Linked DNA regions of Homo sapiens. The protein of the gene in region 1 purifies or fractionates together with the protein of each later gene. This does not show direct contact. Each region holds a gene or a part of one and is shown in the gene's direction. Other genes may lie near its edges. The genes, in order: TYROBP, ERMP1 and SIRPB1.

The links.
Region 2: the proteins of TYROBP (region 1) and ERMP1 purify together in Homo sapiens (co-immunoprecipitation; 2 studies listed by BioGRID and IntAct, with this or other methods). This does not show direct contact.
Region 3: the proteins of TYROBP (region 1) and SIRPB1 purify together in Homo sapiens (affinity purification with western blotting; 2 studies listed by BioGRID). This does not show direct contact.

What each region holds. Positions count from the first base shown.
Region 1 is NC_000019.10:35,906,048-35,909,796, reverse strand, and holds the start of TYROBP (TYRO protein tyrosine kinase-binding protein isoform 1 precursor), read left to right. Parts: upstream 1-1,501; 5' UTR 1,502-1,568; coding exon 1,569-1,629; intron 1,630-2,034; coding exon 2,035-2,067; intron 2,068-2,216; coding exon 2,217-2,351; intron 2,352-2,532; coding exon 2,533-2,579; intron 2,580-3,749. UniProt on the Homo sapiens protein: Adapter protein which non-covalently associates with activating receptors found on the surface of a variety of immune cells to mediate signaling and cell activation following ligand binding by the receptors.
Region 2 is NC_000009.12:5,809,006-5,812,654, reverse strand, and holds part of ERMP1 (endoplasmic reticulum metallopeptidase 1), read left to right. Parts: intron 1-437; coding exon 438-530; intron 531-1,331; coding exon 1,332-1,544; intron 1,545-2,423; coding exon 2,424-2,644; intron 2,645-3,649. UniProt on the Homo sapiens protein: Within the ovary, required for the organization of somatic cells and oocytes into discrete follicular structures.
Region 3 is NC_000020.11:1,564,482-1,568,130, reverse strand, and holds part of SIRPB1 (signal-regulatory protein beta-1 isoform 1 precursor), read left to right. Parts: intron 1-1,863; coding exon 1,864-1,976; 3' UTR 1,977-1,978; intron 1,979-2,633; 3' UTR 2,634-3,649. UniProt on the Homo sapiens protein: Immunoglobulin-like cell surface receptor involved in the negative regulation of receptor tyrosine kinase-coupled signaling processes.

The sequences.
Region 1 (3,749 bases):
TTGGGTGGCCTGGTGTGCCCGGGAGGACCTACAGGGTCTGTTCCCTCCATGCTCGCTCTAGACACAATGGGAGAGGCTTGGGTTTTTAAGGGAGGGGACTCAGCCAGGCCTGAACAGTGGTGACCGTGGGCTGAGCTGGGACCTGACCCTCCTCCAGGCTCCAAATCTCCTCTCCTCCCTTCCCCCACAGGCCACTGGGCATCTGCCCTGTGACCAGAATCCAGTTTCCCCTTTTTTCTCCTAAGCCCAGGCCCAAGGAGCGGTGGGTGTGACGTGTGGATGGGGGAGGGGGGCTTCCTGCAGCTGTCTCATCCTCCAGCACCCTAACCTCAGGTTCCTCCTTCCCCAGCCCCAGGCTCCAGCTGGGGGCTAGAAGTCCCCGTCTCCTTGGGGTGGCCTCCCTTGGGCCTTGCTCCCAGCCACTTCCTCATTCAGCAGGAGAGCCAGCCACCTGCCTCTCCCCAAGCCGCCAGCCGTGCCTCTGTGTCTGTGCCACTGCCTTACTCTCACCTTTCTCAGCTTTGCCGCTGTTTTCTCCTTCCCCATCTTTCATCTTTGTTTTTCCCCCTGACTCTTCCCTAGTCAAAAACCTGATTTTGGGTCTTGGGTTCCATTTCCACCTTGATTTGCTGTGCAGCCTTAGGCAAGCGTCTCTACCTCTCTGAACAATGGGGATGATAAGAGCATGTGCCCTAGAAGGGCATTGCGGGGACTGAATGATTTAACGCTTGGGACAGAGTGCCTGCATGTCATTAGTGCCCACATGCTGCTGGCTCTTTTAATATCCTTTAAACAGCACAAGTTTCTGATGATTAAATAATCATCATCATAGCTGATGCTTTTAAAAAGCTGACAAGGGTCAGACCCTGGTCTAGGAACTTTAATTCATTTAATCCCCACAACTCTAAAAAGTAGGTCCCATTTTACTCCCAATTTTACAGATGAAGAAACTGAGGTTGGAGCTGGGTGCGGTGGCTCACACTTGCAATCCTAGCACTTCGGGAGGCCAAGGTGGGTGGATCACCTGAGGTCAGGAGTTTGAGACCAGCTGGCCAACATGGTGAAACCCTGTCTCTACTAAAAAAAAAAGAAAAAAAAATACAAAAAATTAGCCGGGCATGGTGGCAGGCGCCTATAATCCCAGCTACTTGGGAGGCTGAGGCAGGAGAATCACTTGAACCCGGGAGGCAGAGGTTGCAGTGAGCCGAGACCGTGCCATTGCACTCAAGGTTGACCAGCCAGGAAGAGGCAGAGCTGGTTTCAATCAGCCAGAGGAAGGTCATGACACTGACCCTCCTGTTAAAACGATGTCTGACCCCTGACTGGGGACGGAGGTGAAGTTTGTGCTTCACGTACCCTTTGCCCTTCACGTCTAGTTGCTGGGGGCCTGTGGCATGGCCCCTGGGTGTCTGGGCCTGATTCTTTCTTGGGTTTTGTTTCTGTCTCTCCTCCCCTGTCTCCTCCTCCCTTCTGCCACCACCCGCCTCAGACTTCCTCCTTCACTTGCCTGGACGCTGCGCCACATCCCACCGGCCCTTACACTGTGGTGTCCAGCAGCATCCGGCTTCATGGGGGGACTTGAACCCTGCAGCAGGCTCCTGCTCCTGCCTCTCCTGCTGGCTGTAAGTGGTGAGTTAGGGGCTTCCGTGGCTGCCTCCCGGGTCCCTGGGCTCAGCTTGGGGCAGGGCAGGGAGTGGGGTGGAACGAGAGAACCAAAAGTGGGTGTTGGGATGGGAGCAGGTCCCCAACCTCCCAAAGCCTGTGGGTTTCTCCCAGAGCCCAAGCCCCCAAGTTTTGTCGTCCGCTACAAGCAGGGGAGAAGAGACATCTAAGTGTGTTGCCACAGGACAAGTTGTGCAGAAGTAACGCACATAGTCCGGTGGCCCAGACGCCAGCCCCCTGAGTCCCGCCAGACACGCTCTCCCCCTTGCTAACCTCTTGGCTGTCAGGATCCACCTTCCCTGGCTTCTAAACTTGCCTCCCCCACCCCCGTCATAACTCTGTGCCTCAGTTTACCTTCTTTTTCCTCCTCAGGTCTCCGTCCTGTCCAGGCCCAGGCCCAGAGCGGTAGGCCTAGACCCAGCAGTCCCTCTCTCTACCTCCCAGAGACCTCCCTGTCTCCGTCTCTCCCACACCCTTTCCAAACCTCCCTGCCGCTGACCCCCCTCCCCACAGTTCCCAGCACACACTGACCTCCCCTGACCCCTGTGCTGCAGATTGCAGTTGCTCTACGGTGAGCCCGGGCGTGCTGGCAGGGATCGTGATGGGAGACCTGGTGCTGACAGTGCTCATTGCCCTGGCCGTGTACTTCCTGGGCCGGCTGGTCCCTCGGGGGCGAGGGGCTGCGGAGGGTGAGTGGGGCTAGCAGGGGACATCCTGAGGACTTGCCTAGATGGGGGTGGGGGGCTGGGTAAACTCCCAGATCTCAAACATCCAAAGGGATGGTAATGGAGGTGCTGATTTGGAATGACAAAACACCCTCAACTCACCACTCTGCCTGTCTCTGCACCCCACAACACCCCTCACCTCCAGCAGCGACCCGGAAACAGCGTATCACTGAGACCGAGTCGCCTTATCAGGTGAGAAAACCAGACTGTCCTCCTCACATTTCACTCCTGCCAGGGATATCTGCCCCAGATACTCCTTCATGCCATCAGAGGGACCTCAAAGCCACTCTGCCTAAAGCACCCCCAAACCTTGAAGGCACATGGGACATCTGTCCAAAACTGGGCCGAATGATCAACCACAAGCTTATGGTCAGCTTAAAATGTGTGAAGAGGGGCTGGGCACGGTGACTCAAACCTGTAATCCCAGCACTTTGGGAGACAGAGGCGGGTGGATCACTTGAGGTCAGGAGTTCGAGACCAACATGGTGAAACCCTGTCTCTACTAAAAATACAAAATTAGCTGGGCGTGGTAACGCATGCCTGTAATCCCAGCTACTTGGGAGGCTGAGGCAGGAGAATCCTTTGACCCAGGAGGCGGAGGTTGCAGTGAGCCAAGATCACGCAATTGCACTCCAGCCTGGGCAACAAGAGGAAAACTCTGTCAAAAAAAAAAAAGCGTGAAGAGTTAAAAAGAAAAAAAAAAGGGTGGCTTTGCCTTTGTAAGTGTAAACACAGGCCTTGCCAGAAGTCAGGCCAGGAATTTTCTGGAAGAAACCCAGCCCTAGGACGACTGATTTCTGGGAGACGCTCTCAGTAGGGCAGAGAATGTCATTCAGCCCTACCTTGGTAACTCTAAAGAGAGGAGTCCTAGAATCTCTTTTTTGGGTTTGAGGACCCTTCATCCCTTTGAGAAACTAAGAAAATCTAGACTCCCAGAAAAATCTACACAAAAAATACAAAATTGTGCATATAATCTGAGAGCAGTGTAAATGTTCTTTATAATTAAAAAAAATTTTTTTTTGGCCAGGCATGGTGGCACACACCTGTAATCCCAGCACTTTGGGAGGCCAAGGTGGGTGGATCACGAGGTCAGGAGTTCAAGACCAGCCAGGCCAGGATGGTGAAACCCCATCTCTACTAAAAATACAAAAATTAGCTGGGCATGGTGTCATGCGCCTGTAATTCCAGCTTCTCAGGAGGCTGAGGCAAGAGAATCGCTTGAACCCAGGGGGCGGAGGTTGCAGTGAGCCTGGGCGACAGAGTGAGACTCCATCTCAAAAAAAAAAAAAAGACAGGGGTCTCACTATGTTGCCCCAGCTGGTCTCAAACTCCCAGTCTCAAGTGATCCTCCCGCCTCAGCCT
Region 2 (3,649 bases), on another chromosome or scaffold:
TTTAGCACCTCATTCCCAAAAGATGGTAATAGATCCTTCAGGGGTCTTTCGTTGTTGTCTTGGTTTGCCAACTCCCTTGGCAACTTGTATGTACAACTTATTTGAAGTTAAAATTTGGCTCTGGCCTGGCAAGAATGTAGGTGGCAAAATTTTCATGACCTCCCAAACTCAATATTCCTATCCTTGCTGTGTGACTTGTAATGCCTACCTGTGGAGTAATATACTTCTTCAATCATTATGTATCGAATTATGTACCAAAGCTATAGACTGTGTAAGAATTTGGAAGAGAATTTATATCAGTCGTTTGTAAATGTGACAAAGCAATCGTGCCACTGCTTTGACATTTTGTCTTTTAGGAATTTATTAAAGAAATAGGTCGAAAGCAAGGTTGATCTTTAAAGCAAAATGACTTTTTTTTTTCTATATATATGTTTTAGGAATAGACTTAGCTTTTATTGAGAATGGATACATTTATCACACCAAGTATGACACAGCGGACAGAATTCTAACAGATTCCATTCAGAGAGCAGGTTGGTATTCCAATTTAGACTTTTGATATACACTAAGATGGAATGTTAGGGATGATACATAAACTTGTAAATATTCTGTGGCCTGTGCATTAGAGAGGCAGTATGCAATGTGAATGAGCTAGGGCTTTGGAGTTGGAGAGATGAGATCTTGAATTTTAGTCTTGTAGTCTAGTGTAGCAATTAAGGTCAGGAATATTCATTGTGAGGAAATGAAAAAGGAGTTGGCCCAGGGTTGGGAGGATTGCTGAGTGGTAAGAATGTAGCTCTGTTAGTCTCCCATGATGTTTTCCTGTGGAACTCTGCTAGCTCTCCTCAATTTTTAACACATGTGTGACAGCTTGTTCAGCATCTCTGAGCTTCGTGAAAGGCCTTTGTCTCTTGGTTCACCACTAAATTTCTGATATCTAGAAGAGTGTCTAGTACAGTTAATATATATTATTAAATGAATGGGTACCAAGAAACAGCCATTGGATTTGTCAACAATGAAGGTACAATTGATCACAGAGAATAGTTCTAATAGAAGGGAAAAGATACAGGCCAGTTGGCTGAGCGTCTGAGTGGAGAGGAAATGGAGAAAGGCAGGGGATGGACCTTATTTGAGAAATTTAGTAAAAAAAGTGAGGGAGAGCAGTAGGATGGTAGAAAGCGATTTCTGTTCACATTCTTTCTAACCATTTCTTCATTCAAACAGTATATGGTTTATTTCTGCTTTAAATAGTGGTATGTGTAAATCACAAATAGTTTATTCAGCCTTTTTATCTTTTTCCTTTTCTTTCTTTTTTTTTTTGTTTTTACTAATAGGTGACAACATTTTAGCAGTTCTTAAGCATCTAGCTACATCTGATATGCTGGCTGCTGCTTCTAAGTATCGACATGGAAACATGGTCTTCTTTGATGTGCTGGGCCTGTTTGTCATTGCCTACCCCTCTCGTATTGGCTCAATCATAAACTACATGGTGGTAATGGGTGTTGTTTTGTACCTGGGCAAAAAATTTTTGCAGCCCAAACATAAGAGTAAGTATTTTCCTCTAAAACTACAAATACTGGCATTGCTGTAGAATGTGCTTGAAGTTTTTCAGTCAGTTTGTTTATATCTTCCCAGAAAGCTAAAAATCTTAAGACAATGTTTGCTTTATATTGTAAGAAATTTTTAAATATTAAATTAATATGCTTATTTTACTTTTAGTCTTGGTGAAGCAGTCAATTTTTATATATTTAGGCACTCCATAAAAGTACCACATAGAAACTATTGAAAAATGGTTTGTACAGATTGACTTCTAATGAAAAGTCCCATTAAAAAGTCCACACTACAGACCAATAGCTAGTATGGACCAGTGTCACGAAGTATGAATGAACTGCTTGTGGTTAAACTGTTTCTTTTATTTGAAATATTTCTGCTTGAAATGTTTCAGAGTCTAAGTTGTTGTGTGCTGTTACGAGATAAAATATTTAGCAGCAGTTTAAATAATTCTTTATCAACGCTTATTTTCCCCACACTCCTTATCTTCTTATGTTACCTTATTTTAACAACATTTTATATGGAACTTTGCCTTCCATTCTTGCTAATATTTTGATACACAAAGCATACCAAAAGTGAAGAAGATTAAGACTATCCTCTTCCTTCATAAGGAATGTACCTGAACTATTCCTAGAAGATTTATCTTTTTGAGTGTTTAGTATCTAGAGACTCTTAATAAATGTTACCTGAATATTATTATTTGATACCTCCCTTGTTCTTGTGTTTGGCCAATCTCAACACTAGGACATTTTCATACTTTTCAAGTACAGTGGGGAGTTTTTTGTTTTAATGTTTGCCCATTTAGCTCTACTGACTGGTTATATAACTGATTTGATGAAGATGGTGATTTCAACTTTTTGTTTTCTCTTCATTAGCTGGTAACTACAAGAAGGACTTCTTGTGTGGACTTGGCATCACTTTGATCAGCTGGTTCACTAGCCTTGTTACCGTTCTCATTATAGCAGTGTTCATCTCTCTTATTGGACAGTCTCTCTCATGGTATAACCACTTCTATGTCTCCGTTTGTCTGTATGGAACTGCAACTGTAGCCAAAATAATACTTATACATACTCTTGCGAAAAGATTTTATTACATGGTAAGTGTTTGGTATATTTGTTGATTTCTTTCTGTTGCCTCCAGGGACTGAAGATGAACTTAAGTGTGATTCATTGTATTTGGCCTTTTGAGTGCTAAAAAATTGTTCAGCATGGTTATGGAAAACGCACCTACACTGTGTTAATTTTCTGAAAGATTTCTTATTCTGAGGGTAATGTCACAAAATTCAAATGAGGTTATAAAGCCGGGCTGTTAACAGTGTTAGGGTGGTGGTGACTGGAAGGCTTGTTAGCACAGCCTTCTACTGAATTTGCTGCAGTGTTTGTAAATATGTCCTGGGCTCACCCACTTATTTATGTTATTTGAATATCTGTTCTCCATTGGAGTGTAAGCTCCTTGAGGATAGGGATTGTTTTATTTATTTCTGTATCCTCTGTGCTTAGGTAGTGTCTGACACACAGCATTAACACACAGCAAGTATTTGTTGCCTAAAAGAATGTTGTACTTAAAGTTTTTTCAGTTTTTCCCTCACTGTTTTTTCTTTTTAACTGTATATTGTTGATTCAGATTCTGCATGCATGTATGTCATTGGAGTTAAAAGACACATTGCTAAGGAAAACAGAGGGAAGGGAAATAGGGTTCCAAATGATTTATACTGAGAATATTGTTATATTATTATGGTTTCAAATGCATAAATTTGTTTGGCAAAAATAAAATTAGAAATTAGGGCTGGCCGGGCGCGGTGGCTCACGCCTGTAATCCCAGCACTTTGGGAGGCTGAGGTGGGCGGATCACAAGGTCAGGAGATCGAGACCATCCTGGCTAACACGGTGAAACCCCGTCTCTACTAAAAATACAAAAAATTAGCCGGGCGAGGTGGCGGCGCCTGTAGTCCCAGCTGCTCGGGAGGCTGAGGCAGGAGAATGGCGTGAACCCGGGAGGCGGAGCCTGCAGTGAGCTGAGATTGAGCCACTGCACTCCAGCTGGGGCGACAGCGAGATTCTGTCTCAAAAAAAAGAAATTAGGGCTATGGGCTGGGTGCTGT
Region 3 (3,649 bases), on another chromosome or scaffold:
GATGCCACTGCAATTGTCCCCAGTAACTCTGAAGTCAACTGACAATCTTTGAGTGGTTTGACCCAAATGTCTCCTTCCACATTTCAGGGTCCCACAACTTCCCCATCAGGGCCCTATCCCAGCATAGCAGCCATTGAAACTGAGATTCATGCTCCGCTGTGATTCTGCTACTCTTCTATGATGCCCAGGACCCAATTCTCTATTCCTTCTGCCCTGTGGCTCCAAGAAATAAGAATCTGCAGTGCTGCCAAGAAGTCCTCTGGCTTCCAGCTGAACTTTAACTCATGATGAATCACTCTTAGTTTCTCATTGCCTTCCTCCCAAGAGTTCATGCCCAGCAACAGCTAACACCTTAGTTCTTATAACGACCATTTCCCAATCTGTTTTCAAAAGGCTAATGGCAAGGAATTTCCTTCCTGTGGTAACACTATCCCAGTTTAGTGCCAGTGAAAGTGTTATCAATCGCAACACAACAGCAAGTCACGGCTTCTCCAGTCCCATTCACCACCAGCCCTGGGGTCCTCATTGCTAGCTGATGAGTAATCAGATTCCCAACTTATATTTTAGAGTCTTCTTTCCAGACCACTTCCCAAGGACAGTTTCTCTGGGAGGCCACCTGAGGATGCATAAAGCAATGCAGGAGGCATCCTAGAGTGCTGTCAGGGTCAACATGCCTCAGGAATGAGGAGGCAGGAGTGTAGGAGGAGGGAGGTGCTGAGCCACAGTGCAGGCAGTACAAAGATGCAGCTGCTCTTGCAGAGAGGCAAAAGGCCGGAGGGTCCTGTAGATTTTTTTCAAATTGAGGGGAAGGGCTGGCCCTTCATATTCCCAATGCAGTCTATCTCTCATGTGGGCTGCCCCTTAGAAGGAATAAACTTGGGCAGTGCAGCTCTCCTCAAAGGAGAGAAAGCCCCAGAGAGCCACCCATCTGAGAACTGCCGGCCTGCAACACTCCAACACTCCAGCGGCTATAGATGCTGAGGTCTCCATTCCTTCCTTAAGGACCCACCAGCACCATTTTATTTTAAAAAAAATTTTTTTTAATACCTTTGTTACTTTTAACATCCAAAACCCCTTATTTAAAAAATGCAAACAGTCCCAACATGAGCTTCCGTAGATCTGACTCTCTGTGTCCAACAGAAAGATTTCAGATGACATCTGCACTGGGGTTGAGGTAGGAGAGATGATGTCTGAGGCCCTTCCAAGCCCGAGGCACATTCCCTGACTCACCAGGGAATTTTCCAGCCAGCAGGTTTAATTGGGTCTTGTCCCTGGAGGGCTCCCTGAGATCATGAGAATATGGGGTCCTCTCCCTGCCCCTGGGGCTAAGAAGGGCAGCATGCAACTCTCTCACTCTGAATCCATCCTCACACCACCTGCCCACCCTTTACTAATCATTCTCATGATCCTGGAGTGTTGGACTTGTCTTGGACTCAGGAGTCACCCTTGGGGACATAATGATGGGCTTCCCTAGGTTTGGATCCTACTAATCTCCTGACACTCCCTAAACTCTCTGGCCTCAGTTTCCCCATCAGAATGGAATAATAATCCCTGCCCCATGGGCGTGTGAGGATCAAGTGAGGAACCCAGTTGCCACATATATGAATACCTGAGCACACACTCTCTCCACCTTTTCCCTCCAGGAGGATAAACTGGCAGCCTGGGACAGGGTGAGTGAGAATGAGGAGCCACTTTCCCTGGCCTTTGCTTTCGGCTGGAGTCAGGAAAGCCAGAGCAGGATGCAAGTTCAAAAGCTTCAGAGGATTGATGGGCCCAGGTAGCCTCAGATGGGGTAAGTGGAGGCCCCTGGGATGAGCTCCCAGGTGGCCCCTCTCATGGCTCCTCCTCTTCCCTGATTTCCAGAAGCAGCGCTGGCTCCTACTGCTCCACTCCTCGTAGCTCTCCTCCTGGGCCCCAAGCTGCTACTGGTGGTTGGTGTCTCTGCCATCTACATCTGCTGGAAACAGAAGGCCTGACTGTAAGTTTAGGAGAGGGAGGACTGACCAAGGGCTCCTCCAGAAAGGCAAGGCCAGCAGGAGGGCCCAGCTCACATGCCATGCAGCTTCAGGGTCAGTGGAGTTTACAGAAGGTGACAGGGCTCCCTCAGGATACTCAGGAGTCTCAGGGAACCCTGTATGGGGCTCCCAACCCCCAGGGAGTGTGCAGGAGTTGGGATGGTCAAGGGTATTACAGGAGGTGGGATGCTTCAAGGGGGTTCAAAGTTGTCCCCAGTGGCCTAGGAGTCCCATGGAAAAGGTGGACAGAGGGGTCTAAGTGAGGGCCAACTGAGTGGGTGGTCCCTTGGAGGCCACTGCTGGGACTCCATGGGTTCAAAGTAATCCCCACCGTAGTGTTGAGAATTCCCAGATAGGCTGCTCTGAGGGCTGTTCCTGCTCTGACCTTCTGTGTGCTTGAGTGGAAAGCGGGGAAGAGGGAGCATCAGGACTTGGAAGAAGTGCTGAGCTGGCAGAGTCCTATCTCAGGTCTGCCTGTCCACCCATAACAGGCATCCCAAGAGGAGACCAGCACTAGGGACATATCAGGCTCTCAGGAAACATTTCTTAAATGATGAGCAGATGAATGAATGTGGATGTGTTTTCCAACAGCTCCTTCCTTCCTTCCCTGCCATGTAGGACCCTCAGTCTCTGCTGCCTCCTCCTTTCTTGAGAAGCTCAGCCTGAGAGAAGGAGCTGGCGAGAACCTTCCCCACACTCAGCTCCAAACGCCTCCTCTCCCAGGTCATCTGCCTGCCCACACGCTCCTGTTCCACCTTCACAAGACCATGATGCCCCAAAGCAGTGTCTCTATTCACGGTCCTGAGCAGGGGCCATGGGATTGGGCTCTGGGCACTGACTCATGGCACCTCCCTAGAAGGTGAGAAACACTCCAAATCTAAACACACCAGGACTTCTCCCATCCGTCGCCTTGGGACTGGCCATAAACCACAGACTCTCTCCAGGCTCTCAAGAGTTATCCTGTCTTCTGGATTCCTGCCTACCCCAACTCCCCCAGCCTTGTTGAGGTTCTCTACTGCCTCCTGAATACACATGAACCCCTATACCAATTTTAAGAAAAAAATGATTCTCTTTCCTCTTTGTCCAAGCATCCTATCCCTCAAACCCAAAAAGAAAGAAGCTCTCCCTTCTCTCTCTGTGATGGAGACAGTATTTCTTCTAGTATCCTGCAGCCTTCCCAGTCCTGCTGCTTGTGGTAGAAATGCTGCCACAGCCCAACATTGAGGAGCCCTCGATGACTGCCCTTTACAACTCATATTCAGTTCTGCCTCCAAAATGCATGTGTCCACTTACATGAGATGGTAAATGTTTAACAATGGACTTTCTGAAAGGGAAAAACCAAAAGCTGTTTTGCAGTGCTTGCCAATTTCTCTAGTGTAATAACTCCCAACCTGACCAATTTCACACTGCCAACAGTTAAACAACCAGATTGCAAGATTCCTGAAATTTAACAATTGGTTTTCAGGGCCCAGTCCAAGCCTGCTGCTGGAAACCTCAGAGTTAAATCCCTATTCTCCACACCTCTCACCTCCACCACCCCTCCCTGTCCCAGCCAGCATCATCTCTTTGGGGACCACTCCTCTGGCTTTCATTTTTCAGCCACAGTGATTCTTTGGAAAAGTCAAATCATATCA